Homo sapiens: one gene and its partners. The protein of the gene in region 2 purifies or fractionates together with the protein of the main gene of each other region. This does not show direct contact. Each region holds a gene or a part of one and is shown on either strand. Other genes may lie near its edges. The genes, in order: DMBT1, CLCN2, MUC13, BPIFB1, NVL, PSME3IP1 and RAB11FIP2.

Region 1 (3,500 bases), on a different chromosome or scaffold from region 2:
ATTTTCACATCTCTCTCCCTCTCTCTCCTCTCTGTTTCTCGTGACCTTCCCAGTAAACAGTGAGGTGAGGAAAGCAGGTATTTTATTCCCCTCTTTTGACTGAGGCTCAGGAAAGTTGAGTGACTTCCTGTGGTCACACAGCAAATTGGTGAAAGACCTAGGACTTGAAACCAGAGCTTTTGTCCACTCCAAGGCTCTCGTGCCCCCTCCCCAACTCTCCACGGGATGCCTCTGGGCTAGGTCAAAAATGTCTCTCAGCAAACTTCTCTCCTGGCTTTCTAAGCACCATTTATTCCCTCTTGAAAGGTCTGTGGGGCCCCAAGGCATTCTTCTGGGCGCACACTTAAGCACCATTTATTCCCTCTTGAAAGGTCTGTGGGGCCCCAAGGCATTCTTCTGGGCGCACACTTACTGGACATCTCTGAAGATCACAGTCACACGGTAGTTGTTTTGCACCTCAATGTCCCACACACACTTGGCATTGTTTGGATAGTTCCCGGGATAGAATGGGCTGGAAAAGTCCCCTGATGGTTGGGATAGGAAGCCTCCGCAGGAATAATCTGCTGTCAGGACAAAAAGTGGGAATGTCGGTGACCCCCAGAGCACACTGCACAGTCTACCTGCGGACTACTTTAAATTTAAATTACTTTAAAATTTTATAAAATAATTCCCAAGACAGAAACCAAGTAAGAGCAAGAGGTGGCCTAGATCTGGACCGTCCACTGAGGGCTGGCAGGGCACTCTTGCAGGGAGACCACTTTGGGGGAAGCCATCTCCTCCCCAGCCCCATTGTCACTGAGGAAATGGGAAGGGGAATTTCCAGGCCACTCTGCCACAGACTTGTCAGGGAGCTCAGAACTTACTGTTTGGACGGGTGATGTTGAGAAAAGGAGCTGTTGACAAAAAGAAAAGATCAGGATCAGTTTTCTGGCATCCCTGACACAGCTGTCGACTGCTCATGAGCTGTGCAGATGCTGTGCCAAGCCTGAGTCCACAGGGAGGAGCTGGACACAGGCCTTGCCCTTGGGGAGCTCACTTGCCTTTGGGGAGGTCTGGAGGAGAGCGAATCCCAGCACACTGGGAAAAGGATGAGATTGACCAAAGCCTGGGGAAGGAGAGGAGCCTGGAAGTCTGGCCCCTGCCCCAGATGGAGTGGGGAAAAAAGGGCAGTAATTAGGGGGCAGGCAAAGAGGTAGAAACGGGGTGTCCCAGGCAGAGGAACAGCAGGTGCAACTGCACCTGGGTGGAATAGATTTGGGAACCTCCGTGTAGATGGAGCAGGCAGAGGATGGGGAGAGGGCACCAAGCATAGGGAGCAGATCATGGGGAGCCCTGGCAGTCATGCTGTGCTGAGGAGCGGGGTCATCACCAGAAGACCCTGAGGAATCTCTTGAAGGGGCTGCACAGTGGAGAATGGATGGGAGGGCACAGGCCTGAAGCTGCTGCTATGGGAGGCCAGGAGGGGATGACAAAGCAAGCAGGGGGCGGGGCAGTGGGGGGTGTTGGAGAGGTGCCAGGGCCATGCTGGGAACACTCAGAGCAGCTCAGGGGCAGGCAGGGAGGAGCTCTGCGATGCAGTGGGCCCCATTTGGCCAACACTGGTCAGGGTCTGGTGTCTGTGAGGACAGTCAAATCTGACAGGTGGCGGGCCTCACCTCGGGACTGACTGGAGATCCTAATCTTAGGTGGGTCAGGCCACTGAAGCACAGAGAGGGGCACACTATCCTGGTGGCCGGCAGGGGAGGGGACAGGGGCTGTAGAGGATGGTACCACAGATGAACTCCTTGGAGAGTGAGCAACATGCCCTGCACAGTCTAGGCAGCAGTAATGGAGAGACCTGGAGACCAGGGAAGTGGAATGGAAATCGGAGGGACTTACCAGGTGTCGATAGATGGTTTCCTGAAAAAGGAATAGAAAAAAAGCATAGGTCACAGACATGTGGCTTGGAGGAGGGGCCGGAATGAGACAGAGATACACTTACATGGCCCATAACCTGACCCCCCTCGGCGAGGGTCCCCAGGTCCACCCAGCAATTGCTATTGAGAAGCCTTCCCAGCTTCCCCAGATGCTCCCTAAGTCCCGTCATACTTGTGGTCATCAGGATTACAGCTGAGGTCATAACACCCATCACTCTCTCCTTGACCATGATTGTTCTAAAACCATCCCAATTGTCACCAGTAGCAAGTACTATCATAGCCACCCCGACTCAACAGTCAAGGAAACTGAAGCATAAAGAAGTAAAATCATTGCTGGAGGTCCTTTAGTCAGATGAGTGTTCAGCATAATGGCCCTGGGTCCAGAAACTGGCCAAAGATAAAGCAGCCCCCTGCATGCTCTTCTGGAGTGCGCAGGCCACGAGGACACAATGACCAGCTCCTGCCTGGGCCACAGACACCATCAGCCACTGGCCTTAAGCTCTTGCTTTATAGCAAGTTACAGGTGAAATGGGCCTTCCATGGCATTGGGCCATACCTGAGCAGATGACACCAGCATCTTCACGATGATTACAGTTGTGGGAGAACCAGCCTCGGTTCCGGCACTGCCAGAGAGTGGATTCCGTCCCTGAGCACTCTACATCGTCCAGGGTGATGGGGCCAGAGCCAGAGCCAAAATATGCATTTCCAAGGGCTGAAACTGCACGTCCACACCCTAGCTGTCTGCAGACCACCTCAGCTTCCTGAATGGTCCAGGAGTCATCACAAACTGTCCCCCAGGTGCCACCATGGTAAATTTCTACACGCCCGGCACATAGACCATAGGATGAATTTAAATTGACCAACCTCAAGGTGGCATCTGAAAGACACATTAACTGAGAGATCATGGCCATGTCCCACAACAAATGTCCCACAACAAACCTCAAAGGCCAAGCATCCCACAGGCCTTTTCCCACCTCTAAAGTCGCCAAATAGAAATGTGGAAAAGCTGGGGTGGAGGTACTGGACCGCTCCATGCAGAGCTGAAAGGGGCTCTAGACATCGCCAAGCTCAGATCCCCTCACCTCCAGACGGAGAGGGGTGGCTCTGAAGGAGAGTCACCAGGTCCCCTGGAGAGTTGGTGGCAGACCCAAGGCCAGGTGGAACCCCCAGTCTGCACCCTTTGCTGCCTTCCCAAGGGCCTGCCCACACAGTCAGTGCCAAGAGAAAGAGAATGGGCCGTGCATCGCTGAGGCCCTTCTTTGATTTCCTTGGGGAACCATGGTGCCCCCAAAGAGGCAGCTGGGTAAATCCACCAAGCCTCATAGGCATGGTCTAGTGTGCACTTACCGCTTGGGAAGGAGTTATACCAAGCCAAAAAGCCAGTGTTTTGGAAACTGATGTCACTTCGAAAGTGAATGGTCATTCGGTTGTAAGAAGATGTAAATATTTGCCTGGTATCATTACAGATTTTCCCCAGCAGGAGACTGCTATTCAATGATCCATCAAAGATTTCAACATAATCAAAACTGCAGTTATGGTGTGCCTCCAATCTGTATGGAGAAAATGTATTCAAGTCAACATTGA
Region 2 (2,961 bases):
TTTCCCAACCCCTCCTAGGATGTGCGGGCAGTGTGCTGGCGCCTCACAGCCAGCCGGGCTGCCCATTCACGCAGAGCTCTCTGAGCGGGAGGTGGAAGAAAGGATGGCTCTGGTTGCCACAGAGCTGGGACTTCATGTTCTTCTAGAGAGGGCCACAAGAGGGCCACAGGGGTGGCCGGGAGTTGTCAGCTGATGCCTGCTGAGAGGCAGGAATTGTGCCAGTGAGTGACAGTCATGAGGGAGTGTCTCTTCTTGGGGAGGAAAGAAGGTAGAGCCTTTCTGTCTGAATGAAAGGCCAAGGCTACAGTACAGGGCCCCACCCCAGCCAGGGTGTTAATGCCCACGTAGTGGAGGCCTCTGGCAGATCCTGCATTCCAAGGTCACTGGACTGTACGTTTTTATGGTTGTGGGAAGGGTGGGTGGCTTTAGAATTAAGGGCCTTGTAGGCTTTGGCAGGTAAGAGGGCCCAAGGTAAGAACGAGAGCCAACGGGCACAAGCATTCTATATATAAGTGGCTCATTAGGTGTTTATTTTGTTCTATTTAAGAATTTGTTTTATTAAATTAATATAAAAATCTTTGTAAATCTCTATATACATCTGGTCATTGGAGGTTCCAGTTATAAACCCATCTTAGTTCCACCCCTTTCCCCTCAAAGGGGGAGCAGGGGTCAAGTGACCCCAACCCATCCTGCCAGGGCAGGGCCTATCTTCCTGCCTCTGGAAGACTTGTTGCAGGTGGGTAGTGGGTCAGATTCCAGGTAGGATGAACTGGGAGAAGCTGGCACCCCAGGTCTGGAGGGGGCTGGGGTGCAGCCTCCAGCTGTAGCTGCCTCCTGCCTTCCGAAGGCAGAAGGAATGAAAGATGCACATTCTGGGCTGACGGGCATGGCTAGCACCATCCTAGGCCACCCACGAGGGGCTCATTGGCATTTGTCGTCGCTGTCGGAAGGGCTGCCCTCCCGGGGGAGGCCATGACGGGAGTGGGGCCCCCAGAGTGCATGCACCTCAGTGGTCTCCGTGTCACTGCTGCTGGTGGCACTGTCTCGGAAGCTGGCGAGGGGCGGCCGGACTTTCACACCCTGTGCTGTGACAGAGCCCTCGATGGCCTTCCGGAGCTGGAAAGGTGAGAGGGACAGATGTCTGGACCCAGATGTCAGACTCCTCCCCGCCTTCCTCCCCAGGTGAGCTGGACATAAGCCTCCATGACTTTTTGGAAGTGGAGCAGCTTTGGAGGCCACCATCACCTCACCTCCTTTAGAGTAACGATTCCAATGAGTCTGCCAATACTGGTGACATAAGCATGGTCCACTCCCAGCAGTGAGAAGATAGTGTGAGTCTGCAGTGTGGGGAGAAAAGCGATTGGACTTGATGGACGAGGGGCAGCTCTAAATGACAGGCCACAGGGGCCCAGGACAAGGTTGGTGTGGAATAGGAGGGGTGCCCCAGATTGGGAGGGAAGGAGACAGGACTGCTGGAGGGAAAATAATAACAATCGTAATAATAATGAGAATGTTTCTGTGTCCAGGCCTCAGGAACTTGATACTCAAAATCCTTATATTGCTTACACTGACGGAGAAATAGGATGGGGGAGTAATTCTTAGTCCCATGTTAGAAAGGGGGACGTGGGACAGAACAACTGTTCACACGTGAAATCTAGTGATTGGCCAGGCTCCGTGCTAGGTCTTACATTATCATTTAATTCCAGTACTGTCCTGAGAACTAAGCATTAGGAGAAGCAGCATGGGGCTCAACAGTGAAGTGACTTGTTCCAGGCGGGTCCTCAGGAGTGGCTGTGCAGCCCCAGTCACTTTTCATCACACCGGAGAGGGACGCACAACCCCAGTCCTGTTTAGTTGCAGATATACCGAGAAGGGAGAGCCCACACCGACCTTAAGGGCACTTGGGCCCTGAATCCTATGCCTCTCGTTCCACTGCTTCTCAGTTGCCCTCCTACCTGGCTGGCCAGGTTTGGAGTCTCTCTCCCCTGCTCTGGCATTCCAGTCTTGGCCTGAAGCACGCTATGCCTCTCATACAGTCTGCCTTTTCTAGGGTCCAAGCAGCATCCCAAGTTCTGTTGAGATGCAGCTTGCAGTCCAGGAGGACAACGGTCACCCCCATCTTCCCATGTTTTTCTTGCTTTAAGCCCTCCCCTAAGCTTTCACATATAATCACCAGGGGTTCAGAAATTGTCAGCCAGTTCTCCTTATGCTTTAAGTAGATTTTCTTGGGGCCAGATGTCTTGAAAAACGCTCTCCTGACTCAGCAGTTCCTGGAATTTTTGGCCTATCATTTATCTCACTGTTCTGAGTTTACTTGTAAGCCTCTTCGCTTAATGTTTGAATCAAGATGAGCAGTAATAACAGCTTCTTGTGTACCAATTACTCAGAACTCACTTAAATTGCCTTAACACTTTTTAAATGTTCTTACACATTTGAAATTCTTTAGGGAGGGATTTCCAGAACTTTCCTAAATTTCTCCACCCATGGCATGACAGTACTTAGAGGGGCAAGAAGTTCAATTTTAGAATAAGCTCTTCTGGGCGCGATGGCTCATGCCTGTAATCCTAGCACTCTGGGAGGCCAAGGCGGGTAGAATGCTTGAGCCCAGGAGTTTGAGACTAGCCTGCAATATGCGAAACCCTGTCTCCACAAAAAGCCAGACATAGTGGTGCATGCCTGCAGTCCCAGCTACTTGGGGGCGCTGAGTTGTGAGGATCACCTGAGCCCAGGAGGCAGAGGCTATAGTGAGCCATGATCGTGCCACTGCACTCCAGCCTGGGTGACAGAGTGAGACGCTGTCGTCTCAAAAAAAAAAAAAAAAAAAAGTTCTTCTGTGTTTCTTGAATACCTATAACACAGTTGTCATGTGGTTAGCGATTCCTTCTGGCTAACTGGAGTCCTACGTGCTACAAGTTAGCTTTAATTTCCTTGTCTGACTTCAGAGGGAAACGCTTTTATTAT
Region 3 (3,500 bases), about 59 Mb from region 2:
AGATTCTCCTGCCTCAGCCTCCTGAGTAGCTGGGATTACAGGCGCCTGCCACCACGCCTGGCTAAATTTTTGTATTTTTAGTAGAGATGGGGTGTCACCATGTTGGCTAGGCTGGTTTCAAACTCCTGACCTCAAGTAATCTGCCCGCCTCATCCTCCCAAAGTGCTAGGATTACGGACATGAGCCACCATGCCCAGCCTCCACCTCAACTTCTAAGACATATTTAAGGCTAATATTTTTTCCTTTAAAACTGAACTTTGAGCTGTATTGGCTGGACATGCTCTGAGGGTCCTTCCAGAGCTAACATCTGTGGCTGCAGAATGGAAAGACCCTTTCCTTTCATGCTTGCTCACATGTGTGCACTTGCTCACAATAATCTAAATGATGGGAAACTATTGTTCATGCCAACATTTTTGAAAATGGGAAAAATAAGTAACAGATATTCAGATGTAATTCTTCTTCTAGACATTTTTTTAAAAGCCAGACTAGTATGAAAATTTATGCAAATTTGAATATAAAAAAGAAAAACAACATCTTTAAATTTTTTCTCTTTCATTCTGTGGAAATAATTTATTTTAAAACTTCATGATATTTATCTGTCCATTTAAAACTGTGTTAATAGCTTATAAAACAATGGGTATGGTATGGCTGGAGCCAGCTTCTGCAGGCCCTCTGCCATGCCAGGCCAGGTGCCACGCCTCCAGGTGCAAGACCATGGGGTGGTCCAAGGGTCCCAGGGGAGAGGCCTGGGCAATGAAGAAGTGGTGGCACCGGTGGAGGCGCTCAGGACAGCTGCTGTTTACCGACCAGTAAAGGTACATTTCACTGTTTGAACAACTGGTACGATGGTACGAGCGTGAACCACCTGAAGACCAGCTCTACACTCTGCAACTCAGTGTTAGAACAAAGAATGCTTTACAGAAAGGAAAGTTGGAAAATACTTACCAAGCTAGTAATTTCACTATGCAAGTCTTGATAGGCCATGGAATGTTTCTCTTCTGGGTCAAATGTTTCTGATACTGTCACTGAAATCTTCCCAGGGAATACCTTTCCTGAAAGTTAAGCAGAATCTTTCTGTACTATTTGATGAAAAGAGGGTCATTTCCATTTTGTTTTAAAACATAGATTATTTTTTAGAATTCCCAACATTATATAACGACACTACAGGAAATCTGGAAATATTTTAAAAGTTACCCATCATCCTGCCCAACCTAGCACAACCATTTTAATTTTGGTATATTTCTTTCCATTTACAGTTTACATTGTTGTAATTCCAAGTTTATGCCATATTTTTTTTCTTCTTATTATATAATAGGTATTTTCCAAATCGTTGCCTAGTCTTTTTTTTTTTTTTTTTTTTTGAGAGAGAGAGACAGATAGGGTCTTGCTCTATCACCCAGGCTGGAGTGCAGTGGCACAACTGGGTCACTGCAGGCTTGAACTCCTGGGCTCAAGTGATCCTCCTGCCTTGGCCTCCCAAAGTGCTGGGATTACAGGTGTGAGCTCCTATGCCTGGTCTCATAACCATCATTTTTAAAGGTTGCATAATATTCTGTGAAGTACATGTCCCCTTCCTTGATGTAATCATTTTTTGTTATTGGACTTAGTGCTTTTAATTATTTAAAAGGAAAAGAAAAAGTTGCAATGAACATCTTCACACACAAACTGTTCTTCTGTATTTGGGGTCACTTACTTAGAGTAAATCCCCAGGAGTGAGATTATTAGTGCTAAAAATATGAGCATTTGGGGGCCTTTTGGTATATCCCTAACCCCAGTGGGCAATGCAATGCATTCATTTCTTATAGAATTGGCTGCTCTGGAAAATGAAGATATTTCTCATTCATAAAACAGAAAAAAAAAAAAAACAGAACTCAGACAGTCAGCCCTCAGACCTTCACTGCACCCTGGTGATCTAATCAAAACATCATTATGCCACAAGTGTATAAATGTACTCCTGAAATCCATTTTTAGAGCTGAAGGGCTCTTATGTCTCTAAGAGGGGGATCTGATGTTATGGAGCAAACAAATCTTGTGACACAGAACTGAAGATCAGGCTCCCAGGGTTGCTGGACTGTGTGGTCTTTGATAGATCACCTTGTTCTGCCTCAGTGTCCCTAGGTAACAGCACTTTTCTCTACTTTGCTGGCCTTTGTTGCCTCTGCATTTTCTTTATCTCTCATATTTTGGAATCTCCTTTTGCCATCATTTTGAGTTTTCGATTCCACTTTTGGTGTGAGATACAGAGCTCAGCCATGGCTCATCCCTTGTAACTCACCTTTCTTACATGTAGAAGAGTTGTAGTAATACCCTTCTAAACACAGGCAAAAACTTGTATTATGCAGCTTAACACATAACGAATTATCTGCACAGGGATCATCTTGGCAAGGATTGCTGGGACCTTAGATGGAGTAGAAAGAGATTAGAAATCCAGAGAAATGACAATAAATAACAACTGGAAACGTATTTTTCCATCTTCATGCCTCCCCCCTGGGCCCTTTCCATTCCTTGCTTGTGTTACTCCACAGCACACTTTTGGAAGAGTTAAAAACAAATATTTGCTTGCTTAGGTCTCTAGAGAGTTTGTTTCTGAAATTCTAGAGCCAAGTATAATACTTGTCAATAGTAAAGATCAGAGATTAGTGTACAAGGGCTTGCCCAAAGAAAGAGAGATTGCAGTCTTCTGACTCCAAGGAGTCAGGAATCTTCAGATCTCAAAGTCCCTCCAGAACCTTGAAGCATGGTCCTCTAACACTAGGTGGGGCTCCCCAAAACATTCTAGATAAAACATCTTATTTTTAGAAAGGTATGAATAATTGTCATATAGGAAGAAACAGCCAAGAAGCTCCAAAAGAAACTAGATGTCACATTCTGTTAGGCATACCTAGGAGACATAGCCATAAAAACAGGAATGGGATAGTAAAGGAGAGAAATGTGGATTAACTCAGTGAAAATTCTAAGAGGCCATGAGAAGACATTCCAGCCTCTGGCTTTCTAAGTGGATCATCTGAATAAATGGTGAAAATAACACTGCAATGGGTTCTACACTGTGGGCTGAGACTCCCAGGCCAGGCAGGGTGTAGCATCTTTCTTTCTCTGGGGAACTGATGAGATCTGAGGAGGAGAGTTAGCTCAGTGGTCCAGTGGTGATCTGGGCTATGAGTTTTCTTCACTTCTGTCAAGTGGAATGATTCTGAGCTGTGATGTCAGAATAGCTTATGTGTTTGATAACCTTCAGAGCTGTCTTGAGAGTCTTACAAACCTATATGTAGAAACCACTGATTTCTTTAAAAGCTGTATGTAAGGTACAATGTGTATAACATGCTCTCTTTTGTGAATAAAAGAAGGGAAGGATTATACACAAGCAAATATTTGCTTATATTTGCATAGGTAATTTCAGGAGGGAGATACAAGGAATTGGGCACAGAAGTTGCCTCTGGGGAAGGAAACTGGGGGTCTGGGTCCTGGGGGTTTAGGATGAGAGGGAGATTTATTTTTTATTG
Region 4 (3,158 bases), on a different chromosome or scaffold from region 2:
CCATGTATCTGGAACTGTTCTCTCATTTACTCCTCACCAAAGCCCTCCAAGGCAGAGACAATGACTATCCCCATTTTACGGAGAAGGAAACTGAGGCCCACAGAGGGGAAACTACATCCCAGAGTCAAAGAAGCATTAAGAGGCCAGCCAGAGCTCCAAGCCTAGTTCATCTGCCCCCAGATCCACATTGTTCAGAGAGTCCTCTGTCCACCACACTGCCAAGATAAACAAAACATATGTCCCCCACCCTAAAAGCCATCCCACTGAAGATGGTCTTGAGGCTGACATGAAGGCAGGTGGGAAGAGCTGGCTTTCTGATTCCTGAAGCACAGGGAGGTGGTCAAGACTGTGGACATCATCCACATGTGGCCCAGACATCACCCAGATTGGCTCAGATGTGCCTGAACATGACCCAGGTGTGGCTCAGCCATCCAGTCCCCAAGCCTGCCAGGGGCAAAATGACTCCTGTGCCGGGACAAAGAGACTCCAGACGGCAGGCATCACAGGCAAGTGTTTATTGATTGCAGAGAGGGATGGTCTATAGAGCTCACACCCATACTCCCAGCTGGGACCCAGCCTTCCCTGATGGCTGCCATCCAAGTCTTCACTGGGAGACAGGAGAGCTGGGTTTCCACAAGGAGGCTGGAGTAAGCACAAGGGCATCCTGGAATTGGAGGGGAAAAGTCAGAAAACAGGTTTCTTTAACCTTTTGCCTTGTGGTTTATGCTGGTTTTGTCCTCCATAAGGTGACTGCTGGCACCGGGGGACCATGACCCTGAACCCACAAATACAGAATTCTTAGAAGGGTCGGGGTGGAGGGTCTGTGTGTGAACATTAATGCCACACCAGGTCCTGATGTCATCTCCATTTTGCAGATGGGGACACTGAGACTTGAAGATGGCAAAAGCCCCTTTCCAAAGTCACGCACTCAGTAGGTGGCAGAAGTGGGATTTGCACTTAGCACCCGCCTTGATCACCCCCTGCTTTGGGCCCCTCCTCTGCATGAGCTAATGACAGTAAGGTGTCCATCTCAGTTAGCAGGCATTTACTAAACACCTACTGTGTGCAGCCACTGATCACAACAGAGAACAAAGCAGACAGAAACCCCTGCCTTCTTGAAGTTTTGGCTCCACTCTAGAGGGGGAGAGATGCCCCAGAGCCTGGCACACAGTGACTGTGAGCTGTTCTTCTTAAGGGTAGTATTTGGGAGCGAGGGTGACACTGCCATAGATCCTCTCCCCAGCAGATGCCACGGAGAGTCATTTGCTCACCAAGCATTTATTGAACACCTACTGTGTGCCAGGCCATGCTGAGCACCGGGGACAGAGGCATGGACAAGATGGACATGATCCTGGCCTTGAGCTGAGACCATCTGGCCACATGGTGTGTGTGTGTGTGTGTATGTGTATGTGCATGTGTAGTGTGTGTATGTGTGTATATGTGTATGTGTGCGTCTCTGTGTATGTGTGTGTATGTATGTGTGTATGTGTGTGGTGTGTGTGTAGTGTGTATGTGTGTGGTGTGTGTATTATGTGTGTGTGTATGTGTGTGTGTAGTGTGTATGTGTGTGGTGTGTGTATTATGTGTGTGTGTGTAGTGTGTATGTGTGTGGTGTGTATGTGTGCAATATGTATGTGTGTGTGTATGTATATGTATAGGTGTATAAAGGTGTGTGTGTGTATGTATGTGTATAAAGGTGTATGTGTTTGTATGTGCGTGTGTATGTATGTGTATAGGTGTATAAAGGTGTGTGTGTGTATGTATGTGTATAAAGGTGTATGTGTTTGTATGTGCGTGTGTATGTATGTGTATAGGTGTATAAAGGTGTGTGTGTGTATGTATGTGTATAAAGGTGTATGTGTTTGTATGTGCGTGTGTATGTATGTGTATAGGTGTATAAAGGTGTGCGTGTGTGTGTGTATATGTGTGTGTGCATGCATGCATCTCAGGCCTATGAGGTTACCTGCCTTGGATGTTGCCTCAGATCCTGGGCCTCCTTCCTCATCTTTCCTGGAACACCAACAATCCCTGCCTCAGGGCCTTTGCACTTGACATCTGATATGGTTTAGATCTGTGTCCCCGCCCAAATCTCATGTAGAACCCAATGTTGGAGGTGGGGTCTAAGCTGATTGGATCATGGGGCTGGTTTCTTGTGAATGGTTTAGCGCCATCCTCTTGGTGCTGTTCTCGTGATGGTGAGTGTGCTCTTGTGAGATCTGGTTGTTTAAAAGTGTGTAGCACCTCCCACCCCTTGCTCCTGCTTGGGCCATGTGATGTGCAGTCTTCCCCTTTGCCTTCCGCTATGATTGGAAGTTTCCTGAAGCCTCCCCAGAAGCTGAGCAGATGCCAGCATCGTGTTTCCTGTACAGCCTGCAGAACCACAAGCCAATTAAACCTCTTTTCTTCATGAATTACCCAGTCTCAGGTATTTATTTTCTTTCCTTTTTTTTTTGGGGGGGGGATGGATTTCACTCTTGTTGCCCAGGCTGGAGTGCAATGGCGTGATCTCAGGTCACTGCAACCTCCGCCTCCTGGGTTCAAGCAATTCTTCTGCCTCAGCCTTCCGAGTAGCTGGGATTACAGGTACCCGCCATCACGCCCAGCTAATTTTTGTATTTTTAGTAGAGACTGGGTTTTGCCATGTCGGCCAGGCTGGTCTCGAACTCTTGACCTCAGGTGATCTGCCCACCTTGGCCTCCCAAAGTGCTGGGATTATAGGCACAAGCCACTGAGCCCAGCCTCAGGTATTTCTTTATAGCAGTGTGAGAACGGCCTAATACGCTGTCCCTCTGACGGGACACTTCTCCCAGCTACCCACAGGGCTCACCCCTCACCTCCTCAGGCATTGGCTCAAATGTTACCTCCTCAGAGAGGCCCTCCCTGGCCACCCCATCTGAAACAGCACCCCCTTCCCTGACATCACTCTCTCCTCCTGAGCCTGCTTTATTTTTCTTCTCAGCCTTCCTCCACTCAGCCTGATGTTACATCTTTAGGGCTTGTGTATCTGCCTCTTCTGCTAAAAGGTAGGCTTGAAAAAGATGGGAGTGTTTTCCATTTGTTCATTTCGGTGGCCTCAAGCACTCAGAAGCATGGCTTGCCTATAGAAGACCCTCGAAAAATATTTAGTGAATTACTGAATGAATGAATGAATGAATGAA
Region 5 (3,500 bases), on a different chromosome or scaffold from region 2:
GATGCATTTTCACCTCCACATAGCCTGTAGTAACATCAGGAAATCTGACATTTCTGCCTTCATCCTTCCTATGTTTGTGTTGTTACAGTTATTAGTTTTTCTTCATATGTTTTGAAGTAAATTTGTTTGTTAACTTTCCCAATTTGGGGACACAGAGGGAGGAAATGAAACTCAAGTTTAACTAACAGAGACAATGCCCCCTCCGGCTTTTTGTTTTCTTTTTTTTCTTTTTTTTTTTTCCATACAGGGTTTCCCTCTTTCACCCAGGCTGGAGTACAGTGGCATGATCATGGCTCACTGTAGCCTTGACTTCCTGGGCTCAAGCAATCCTCTGACCTCAGCCTCCTGGATAGCTGGGACTACAGGTGCATGCTACCATCCCCAGCTAATTTTTTTAAAAAATTTTTGTAGTTTTAGGGTCTCGCCATATTGCCCAGTCTTGTCATGAACTCCTGAGCTTAAGTAGTCCCTCATGCCTCAGCATCCCAAAGTGCTGGGATTACAGTGAGCCACCACACCCGGCCCTTTTTTTTTCTCTATTATGTCCTTCCAATGTAGCAGTGATTCTCAGTGAAGAGAAACTGATCAGAGTCTCAGGCAGGGGTGGTGAGGGGCAGATGTAAATGCCTCTACCTCCCCTTAAATAGGATGTGCCTCACCCCCTAATTAGGAATCAAATCCATACGAGTCTTTATTTAAATGATGTGGCCAGGCACAGTGGCTCACGCCTGTAATCCCAGCACTTTGGAGGCTGAGGTGGGCAGATCACTTGAGGTCAGAAATTTGAGACCAACCTGGCCAACATGGTGAAACCTTGTCTCTACTAAAACTACAAAAATTAGCCGGGCATGGTAGTGCACACCTGTAATCGCAGCTACTAGGGAGGCTGAGACAGGAAAATTGCTTGAACCCAGCGGGTGGAGGTTGCAGTGAGCTGAGATCGTGTCACTGCACTCCAGGCTGGGCAACAGAGCGACACTCCATCTCAAAAAATAAAAATAAATAAAATTAAAAATAAAGAAATGGCCTTATGCTTAGGAGACTACTACTTGAGTAGTTTACTGCTTTAAGGGTGGGAGCAGTGGCTCACACCTGTAATCCTAGCCCTTTGGGAGGCCAAGGCAGGCAGATTGTTTGAGGCCAGGAGTTCAAGACCAGCTTGGGCAACATAGTAAGACCCCATCTCTACAAAAAAAATAATAATAATACAGCTTTAAGTGCTCAAATCTGAAAAGATTTTCGGTGAGTAACAGGTGATTTTGGTGGCGGAACTTGCCCTGGGCTAAATCTTTTGGATATACCAAGTAGGCTATCAGTCTGTGAAGGGGTTAGGGCTAAAGTTGAATGGTGTACATTTTGGATTTTCATGCCACTATAATTACAGTTTGAGAGACACTACACCACTACAGTCTATAGCTATCTGCTTGTGTTAGTTAATGGTGTTTCCACCAATGTTAGATTTCATAGTATGGGAAGGAATGAATACCCCAGCAGGTATGTGATTATTAAATAATGTTATAACCCTAACATTTAGCCAACAAAACACCAGATTCAGTTAAAAATTTAAGCTCTGTGGGTCTTTACTTTTATATAGTATGTGTCTGAGGCAGGAGAATCACTCATACCCAGGACGCAGAGGTTGCGGTGAGCCAAGATCACACCACTGCACTCCAGCCTCGGTGACAGAGCAAGACTCCATCTCAAAAAAAAAAAAGTTATATAGTATGGGGATTATCAACATTATATAATAAGTTTAATGTCCAGAGATGAGGTTTTTTAAAAAAATTTATTTTTCATTTTCATCTTTTCTTTCCAAGACTTGTGAATCATAGAAGTGATGTTTTTATCCCCAAACTCAAACTCTTTCTCATATAATCTCTAAGAACCCTGTTACAGCTGTAATGTAGTGAAACTCCAGTCAACATGAGTGTCTTTCATTGAACTCAGAACTGTGCTGACTCAGCATATTATTACATGAACTAATTAAATAAGTGAAGGCCTGTTTTGTATTTGTCATATTTTAAGTAACTTATGATGTGTTCATTCAGTTTTAACTTGAATCAGGTGCATTAAAGACTTTCCAGGGTTTGTATTTTTCCCTTCTGAACTTGGAGCCACAAGTGACTTTTTGGGGGGTTTTCTTGAGACAGGGTCTCACTCTGTCACCCAGGCTCACTATAGCCTTTGCCCCCCAGGCTCAAGCAATTCTGCCATCTCAGCCTCCCAAAGTGCTGGAATTACAGGCATGACCCACTGCGCCCAGCCCATAAATGACTTTTTAATAAGCTTACTTTAGACATTATGTAATACATGAATATGCTAGTCAGCACTTTAGCCCTTTATGCATTGTATTGTTTCCTCCATAATTTCCTTTCTTCTTGAGTTTAGTTTTTTTTTGTTTTTGTTTTTTAATTGGGACAGAGTCTCACTCTGTTACCCAGGCTGGAGTGCAGTGGTGCGATCTTGGCTCATTGCAACCGCCACCTCCCGGGCTCAAGTGATCCTCCCACCTAAGCCTCCCCAGTGCCTGGGACTACAGGTGCATGCCACCATGCCCAGCTAATTTTTTTGTAGTTTTGTAGATATGGCATTTCTCCATATTGCTGAGACTAGTCTCAAACTCCTGTTCAAGTGATCCACCCACCTCGGCCTCCCAAAGTGCTGGGATTATAGGCGTGAGCCACTGCACCTGGCCTAGAAATATCTTATATAAAAGCTAAGAGCTCTTTTCTATTGATTGATAATCAATTTATTTCTCATCTTTATTGGTCACTTTTTCTCCTGATTATTTAATATATGACTTATATGAAAACTGTTTTCCGGGTTTTTTTCTGGGATTTTGCAGTATCTAAGAATAAGTAGATAACTATTATTTTATTGTAGGGGCGCAGATCTCTCTGCTTTGGTACGAGAAGCTTCTATCTGTGCCCTGAGACAGGAAATGGCAAGACAGAAGAGTGGAAATGAAAAAGGTACAATTCTCTCCAGAATCTCTCAATTCTAATTATGATACTTAAAACCACTGTTGCCCTGGAAAATGACCATTTTCTAGTGTCTATTATCTATGATATTAAAGCTAACGTTTTTCTAATAAGACTGTTAGAAGCTGTTCTGAAATATTAGGTAACCTCTGTTGCTGACAATTATAATAATAGCAAAGTTATTTAGTACCTCTCTAATAAAGAGTACTGTCCCTATAGGCAAATGGATCCATTCGCTGTCTTCATCATGAGTCTGGGCTGCTTATCAATTCTGGAAAAACGTATTCTTTTGCTAAGGTGATATCTACTTGCCTGTTAAAATGCAGCCTAAATTGGAGAGCTTAGAAAATACACAAGAGAAGTGAAATTTGGAATAACTTTCCATATGTTGAGACTTTCCTTTCAAAATATAAAATCTGTGTATTGTGTTATGTGATGCTTTGGGGCCATCTCAAAAGCTTTGCACCATCCTTCACATTTGACAGTGTCTTTAATGTTATTATTTGAGTGCATATGGGG
Region 6 (3,500 bases), on a different chromosome or scaffold from region 2:
ATTGCTATTCCTAACTTGAAAAATGACTCCATTTAGCTAGTGCCATGACACAAAGTAATGAGATCTGGTTTCCTATGGAATTGAATTATGTGATGGCAAACTACTTGAGTGTTTACATCACTGGCCACCATATCCTTCTAATTCTAAAATTAATTAGATTGTACATGTTAAAACACACCAGAATCAGGTTTCTGTGTTCTGTTGTTTTAAGGCTTCACTTTCAGTAGCAAAAGCAATAGGTCAATCCATTTCCTTTTGTGAGTAAATATAGATTATTGCTTTCCAACATTTTTTACTCTGATGTTCAAGTCACACTGTACTTCAAAATGCAGGACAGCAACTAAGAGGAATTTGCCATCTGGCTAACTCATCTATATTTCAAATAAAGACTTATTTCTGGCCAGAAGGCACTTCTACCAAGATACAGTTATTTAGATTTTTAAAAATTTAGCTGACTTTTCCTATATCATAAAATTTATTTAGAGAACAACAACTACTAACAGAGAGCCCGCTGTTAGTATTTATTACTAGGCAAAGTGAAGTCAATCTTCTAACACCAAAGCTTAATTAACATATTCCGGTAGCAAAGGAGACTAAAAGAATCTAAAAACTAAACCACAGAAAAAGAAATTTAATCCATATTTTAAATGTTTATCATAAGGAGCAATTTGCAATAACCTTTCAGGCATCTATGAAACACATACAATAAAAAATTCAGCTTTGCAATAATCTTTCAGGCATCTATGAAACACATACAATAAGAAATTCAGCCAGGCATGGTGGCTCACACCTGTAATCCTAGCACTTTGGGAGGCTGAGGCAGGAGGATCGCTTGAGGTCAGGAGTTCAAGACCAGCCTGGCCAACAGGGTGAAACCCCATTTCTACTAAAAATACAAAAATTAGCTGGCTGTGGTGACATGTGCCTGTAATGCCAGCTACCTGGGAGGCTGAGGCAGGAGAATCGCTTGAACCCAGGAGGCGAAGGTTGCAGTGAACTGAGATTTCACGCCGCTGCACTCCAGCCTGGGCAATAGAGCAAGACTCCGTCTCAGAAAAAGAAAAAAAAAAAAGAAAAGAAATTAAGGCCTGGTGCACTAGCTCACACCTGCAATCTGAGCACTTTGGGAGGCCAAGGCAGGATTGTTTGAGCCCAGGAGTTCAAGACCTGCCTGGGCAAGATGGTGAGACCCCAACTCTATTAAAAACAAACAAACAAACAAACAGACAAACAGGCTAGGCACAGTGGCTCATGCCTGCAGTCCCAAAGCTGTGGGAGGCCAAGCTGGGAGCATCACTTAAGGCCAGGAATTTAAGACCAGCCTGGGCAACACAGTGAGACTCTCTCTCTACAAAAATATTTAAAAATTAGCCAGGTGTGATGGTGCACTACTTAGGAGGCTGAAGTGGGAGGAAGGCTTCAGCCAAGGAGTTCCAGGCTACAGTGAGCTATGAGGGCCATTGCACTACAGCCTGGGCAACAGCACAAGACCGACCTTGCCTGGCGAGGGGGAAAAAAAAGAAGTTAAAAAAAAAGTATTGATTTATTTATCTTTCCATAGCACAAGGGCAGGGTCTCAAATGTGCATTTATCTTGAATTCACCTATACACACTAGAAGAAAGATAACTAATTTAAATATCGGTTCCCTTAGCTGATCCTCATTCACATGCACCTCTCTGAATATAAATACTTCCCTCACTATGCATGAATGATTGTATTCATTGTATTTTTTACATATTGTGACTCCTAAATACAAACCAACAACTTCATCTGGGGCTCACAGGAAGAAAAACAGCAGTTTTTTCCAAAGCCGAAATAAAACTTGCCTGAGGATATAGAGAAAAAAAAAACCCAAACCAAACCAAAGCATTTTTGCTATTCTCTCACTCAACAATCAACACAGTATAATTCTGTGAGGGATATGTCCCCACACACCAAGCAACCAACCAATTCTGTAGCAGACACCAACCAGCTGGGTGTCCTCTAATTCAGTTCAATTCTGACACTACCTACCTGGATGGAGACCGCGTCAGATCCCATAGGTTGAGGGGTGAGTCCCACAAGACTAGCCTCCATTTTAGATACCAACCACAAGAATCAGGTTGTTTTACCTGTAGTTCTAACCAACTGGCTATTAATCAGGGTTCCCATGACCCCCTCCTTAGGTTCTATTAATTTGCTAGACCAATTCACAGAACTTAGAGGAACTTAGAGGAACACTTTACTTACATATACTGGTTTATTATAAAAGCATATTACAAAGGATACAGATGAAGCAATGCATAGGGCAAGGCATGTGGGAAGGGCACAGAGCTTCCATGCACTCTCTGGGGCACCATCATCCAGGAACCTCTCATGTCCACCTATCCAGAAGCTCCCCAATCCCAGTCTTTTGGATTTTTATGGAAGCTTCATTACTTAGACATGACTAATTAAACCAGTGACGCTGGTGGTCATCAGCTCGTCTGCCTTCTCCTCTCCCCAGAGGTTGGACATTGGTTGAAGGTCCCAACCCTCTAATCCTGCCTGGGTCTTTCAAGTGACCAGCCCCCATGCTAAAGTTACTTAGGGGCTGCCAGCCATCAGTCAGCTCCTTAGCATATAAAAAGACACTAATCATTTTGGAGATTTCAAGGATTATAGGAGTCATATGCCACAGGAGACAGGGATGAAGGCCAAATATGTATTTTACAATATCACACTGGCCATGTCAGAGTTCTGCAACACTGGTATTCCTACAATTAACATGCTGCCTCCCTGAGATTTCAAGGGTAGCTTTGCTTGTAAGCTATTTTGTCATCTAGGCTCGCTTCAGAACCTAACCCACACCTCAAGTCATACTCCATCCTCCCTCCCCCCACCCTATATAACTCCACTTCAAGACCAAATTAAAAACAAAATAAAACAAAAAAACGCAGTCCCAGTTACTCAGGAGGCTGAGACTGGAGGACTGCTTGAGCCTAGGAGTTCAAGGCCAGCCCGGGCAACATAAGGAGATACCCATTTCCCTTAAAAAAAAAAAAAAAAAAAAAAAAACTTTGCATTACAATAACCAGACAAGGCCAACTAAGATTTTTTTTTTTTTTTTTTTTGGCGCAGTGGCTCATGCCTGTAACCCTAGCACTCTGGGAGACTGAGGCAGGTGGATCACCTGAGGTCAGAAGTTCGAGACCAGCCTGACCAACATGGTGAAACTCCGTCTCTACTAAAAATATGAAAATTAGCCAGGCGTAGTAGCACATGCCTGTAATCCCAGCTACTCGGGAGGCTGAGGAAGGAGAGTTGCTTGAACCCGGGAGGCGGAGGTTGTAGTGAGCCGAGATCGCGCCACTGCACTCCAGCCTGCGCGAAGTGGGCGAGACTCCATCTCAAAGAAAAAAGATTTTTGAAGCAAATATTTACCGAGAACCTATTATGTGCAAGATACAATGCTATGTACTAAACAGGCAACTGAGGAACTTACACTCATTCAGTAAAAGACATAAGGTTGGCACACAGC
Region 7 (3,500 bases), on a different chromosome or scaffold from region 2:
GAGTTCCAGATTTTATCTGATATTTGAAAACAATGTAAACCTTCTAATTTTAGGCATGAGATTCTTAAATTGACTGATATACTCCACATATATATATATATTTCTGTTTGTTGATATAACTCCAAATAAAATAATGATTAAGTAATATAAACAATAGAAAATTAAAACATATGCTCATTACAAAAATTATTTTTTTAGAGAGGAAAACTCTCAGGTAAATATAAAAATTATTTTTTCGAAAGATTATTCTTGCAAAAACTTGCAAAATTCATAACTCTCTAAACTGGCAAAGACCAAATGCAACTTACAATGGTTACTCCAAAGTGCTCAATATTTTTTCTTACAGTACTCCATACAGACAGCACTTATGTTTTTAAGATGTTTTCTTATTTTGAAATTTAATGTAAATTTTTCTTCTCTCTTCCCCTTTTACAACCAACCTTTTCTCATTTCTACTCCACCTCTGTTAAAAATGTCCATATGCAGACATAGAAGATGTGGACTGGTAAGAAAATATTAGAATTACTACATGAAGTTTTCTAACCCAGAATTTTAAATAATACAGTTTTGCATAAGATTTTGAGAACTGCTAGTGATCTATTTTTGCTTTACACAGTCTAGCCTTTTAAACTAGGAAATGTACATTTTTTACAATATTTAAATTTAAACAAAAGCAAATTATCAAGACTCAAAATAACTGAAGATTTAAAGAAAGGTTGTCCTGGTAACCAAATATTGGTGGGGTACTAACTGACATCCAAGGCAACTAGAGGAGAGAGAGAAAAAAAAATGAAGGCTTGGCATTCTCTGATCATCTCATTATTGTTCTAATGAGGAACTTTGCTCTGGGAATATCATCTCAGCTACTTTCACATCTTTTGTCCTACTCCCTTCATCTCCCTTTCAGTTCTTAATTAGGCCTTAAAGAGCTCACACTGCCCTTTCAACTGGCTACTGCTCCTGTTTAAACACTGTGCTTTCACAGACAGGTGTTGGCACTAGCATATAAGACATACAAACTTAATTACAAAATACTATGTCCAGAGGGAGAAAAAATAACTTGGTGGATGGCTATTATTGGAGAACTTAATGTAAATTACTTCAAACATCTTATAATCTTCAACATAAAAATTGTTCGAATGCTTTTCTTCAATCATGATCAGTACGAAGATGCGCTTCCTCCTCTTAATTGTATCTTGCAGTAAATTAACAACACCTAGTAATCCTTTAACTGTCATTTAGAATAGTTAGTATTCCAGAGAAAAATAATCACACATCAAGGATTCTTTTATCACCTTTAAATCCTTTAACTAAAACAATTTTCACATTTTATTTCTTTAAAGAATTCTAAGGATGCTTCTACAGCAATAAATTACAAGATTTGGAAAAGTACATTTACAAGCAATCGAAATTGTAATTAAGGTTACTTAATAAACAATAGCTACACATTAAATCGATTTTTTTGATGTTGCATTTTGTTTGAGATTAAGTAACCGCCTGATAGAATTCATTTTACTATCTGATCAAAGGCTGACTTCATATTTTCTCACATTTCTCGCCAGACTGCCATATTATAAAGACTTGAGAATTTATAAAACATCAAAACTTACGAATCGTTTAAATAAAACAGCAAAAACACAGTACAAAGTCCTGTGCTTCTGTAACAGTTTCCACAATTTTAAAGATAAACAACTGCATTTAGAATGGTTTAGAAAATAAACCCTAAACCCACCTTAGCTTCTTCTAGCCATGTCACATCCTAAAAAATAGTGATATGTGATATGGGATTGCCTAAAAAAATTCTTACTATACATCTGGATCGCACACATCAAGGACAGATGGTTGAAACAGCAACCACCAGTGTCTTGGAATAAAGCCTCTATTTCTGTTATTCAGTGAGAATTTAGTTTTCTACCAAGAACGTTTGCCCATATTTTGGCAAAGTAATTTATTCTCTACGTTTAATATAGTTAGAATTGATTGCAGATGCAATGGAACTCTGAACAGAGATTAAATACTGGACTTCAAATACTACAATAAAGTTCAGATTATCTGAATAATCCTTGCAAAATACGTGAGTTGATTTAGGTGGTCGCTACCAATCCTGTTAACATATTTGGTTTTGTTCTGACGAGAAAGATAAGTGTCCTAAAGTATTTGTTCTTTCAAATACTTTCCTGGTTATCTGGCTCTCCTGCCAGGATGCTTTTCTATTGTTGAATGTTAACAAGCAGCTTTATTCTTTCTTCAATCCTTGTCCCAACAACAACAAAAAATAGTCTTTTCTACGTGCTCTTATTTCATAACCACAAATTTGACCCTGACATACAGCTTGCATATTAATTTCAAAAGTCTGTAAACAAAATATGTATATTCTAAATTGGCTTCAATTATAACCAATTTTGCTTGAACTTTCATAGATCATACGAGTCACACCCTATTGTATATTAAAGGCAAAGATTGTATTTTACTTTCTTTCTTTCTCCTAAAATTACTACGCTAAGCTACAATTCTTAGGTAAGTGAGGCAGAAGGCAAGAAGACAAAGGCATTTTTAGAAATGTGTGCCAGAGAAAAAGACCAGCTTACTCTTTGACAACCCTCTAACCCCTTCAGCAACTTACCGGGATTTTCCTGAGGTCTTCATTGCTTGTTGGACTCATATGAAAACTAATAAAACACAAACAAATGTTAAAAGTGTCATAACTCATGTGGGAGGAAACATAAAAATAGAAAAATTTTAACCAACATTGTAATACAAATTTCTAAAGCCCTACATTATTCAGAGGAGTGAAATTTAATCCAAGAAGTAGAAAAAAATCCAGTATTTCCCCAACATTCTTAAAGCATCATTACAATTTCAAACTTTGAAGGAAAACTTTTTAGTTATCAGAACTGAAGAATGAAATAGGAAGTTTCTAAACAACTTTAAACATAGCACTTTTATCCAGCAAGATATTTTGCAAAACTAATTTGTGTGAGAGATTTCCCATTATATTTACACACAGTCACTCACCTTAGGCCCTCTGATATAAAACTAGGGAGAATTAAGTAAATTTAGGTTGGAAAGATTATAGAATAAAAGAGTTAAAGCAATCTGTTTAAAAATGCCATAAGTGTTAGAAAACTCAGCTTTCAAACATTACCCTATCAATAAGAATAAATTCAGAATTGTGGGAAACATTTCTCTCGTTAATGTGATTTCTAAGTAGCTAGTCTTGAAAATTTAAATACTGAAACGAATCAAAACAACACAGATTTCTCCCATGCAGAGAAGAAAACATCACAGCTGAATGCTATAACTATTTTCTTCTTTGAAACATGTCCATTAGATGGGACTGCAACCAAAAGACGCTAAACTTCAAAGCCATCTGATGAGTAAATATTTCATCGGTGCTATTCAAGTTTAATTTTTACCCAGCACTTAAAGGTATTAGCCTTTAAAACCTTCACAAAGCATTAGTGTCCTAAGAACCTTTTTATTCCATGCACAAAACAACA

The links.
Region 1: the proteins of CLCN2 (region 2) and DMBT1 purify together in Homo sapiens (affinity purification with mass spectrometry; one large-scale study listed by BioGRID and IntAct). This does not show direct contact.
Region 3: the proteins of CLCN2 (region 2) and MUC13 purify together in Homo sapiens (affinity purification with mass spectrometry; one large-scale study listed by BioGRID and IntAct). This does not show direct contact.
Region 4: the proteins of CLCN2 (region 2) and BPIFB1 purify together in Homo sapiens (affinity purification with mass spectrometry; one large-scale study listed by BioGRID and IntAct). This does not show direct contact.
Region 5: the proteins of CLCN2 (region 2) and NVL purify together in Homo sapiens (affinity purification with mass spectrometry; one large-scale study listed by BioGRID and IntAct). This does not show direct contact.
Region 6: the proteins of CLCN2 (region 2) and PSME3IP1 purify together in Homo sapiens (affinity purification with mass spectrometry; one large-scale study listed by BioGRID and IntAct). This does not show direct contact.
Region 7: the proteins of CLCN2 (region 2) and RAB11FIP2 purify together in Homo sapiens (affinity purification with mass spectrometry; one large-scale study listed by BioGRID and IntAct). This does not show direct contact.

Annotation. Positions count from the first base shown.
Region 1 is NC_000010.11:122,630,254-122,633,753, reverse strand, and holds part of DMBT1 (scavenger receptor cysteine-rich domain-containing protein DMBT1 isoform e precursor), read right to left. Parts: intron 3,467-3,500; coding exon 3,264-3,466; intron 2,794-3,263; coding exon 2,473-2,793; intron 1,900-2,472; coding exon 1,879-1,899; intron 894-1,878; coding exon 864-893; intron 564-863; coding exon 413-563; intron 1-412.
Region 2 is NC_000003.12:184,345,685-184,348,645, forward strand, and holds the end of CLCN2 (chloride channel protein 2), read right to left. Parts: exon of another isoform or gene 1,679-2,961; intron 1,338-1,678; coding exon 1,251-1,337; intron 1,117-1,250; coding exon 922-1,116; 3' UTR 501-921; downstream 1-500. UniProt on the Homo sapiens protein: Voltage-gated and osmosensitive chloride channel. Forms a homodimeric channel where each subunit has its own ion conduction pathway.
Region 3 is NC_000003.12:124,921,252-124,924,751, forward strand, and holds part of MUC13 (mucin-13 precursor), read right to left. Parts: intron 2,399-3,500; coding exon 2,276-2,398; intron 1,053-2,275; coding exon 946-1,052; intron 1-945. UniProt on the Homo sapiens protein: Epithelial and hemopoietic transmembrane mucin that may play a role in cell signaling.
Region 4 is NC_000020.11:33,307,214-33,310,371, reverse strand, and holds the end of BPIFB1 (BPI fold-containing family B member 1 precursor), read right to left. Parts: intron 665-3,158; coding exon 605-664; 3' UTR 501-604; downstream 1-500. UniProt on the Homo sapiens protein: May play a role in innate immunity in mouth, nose and lungs. Binds bacterial lipopolysaccharide (LPS) and modulates the cellular responses to LPS.
Region 5 is NC_000001.11:224,232,673-224,236,172, reverse strand, and holds part of NVL (nuclear valosin-containing protein-like), read left to right. Parts: intron 1-2,883; coding exon 2,884-2,972; intron 2,973-3,200; coding exon of another isoform or gene 3,201-3,232; exon of another isoform or gene 3,233-3,500. UniProt on the Homo sapiens protein: Participates in the assembly of the telomerase holoenzyme and effecting of telomerase activity via its interaction with TERT. Involved in both early and late stages of the pre-rRNA processing pathways.
Region 6 is NC_000016.10:57,179,540-57,183,039, forward strand, and holds part of PSME3IP1 (PSME3-interacting protein), read right to left. Parts: intron 3,012-3,500; exon of another isoform or gene 2,078-3,011; coding exon of another isoform or gene 2,015-2,077; intron 1-2,014. UniProt on the Homo sapiens protein: Promotes the association of the proteasome activator complex subunit PSME3 with the 20S proteasome and regulates its activity.
Region 7 is NC_000010.11:118,012,442-118,015,941, forward strand, and holds part of RAB11FIP2 (rab11 family-interacting protein 2), read right to left. Parts: intron 2,670-3,500; coding exon 2,624-2,669; intron 1-2,623. UniProt on the Homo sapiens protein: A Rab11 effector binding preferentially phosphatidylinositol 3,4,5-trisphosphate (PtdInsP3) and phosphatidic acid (PA) and acting in the regulation of the transport of vesicles from the endosomal recycling compartment (ERC) to the plasma membrane.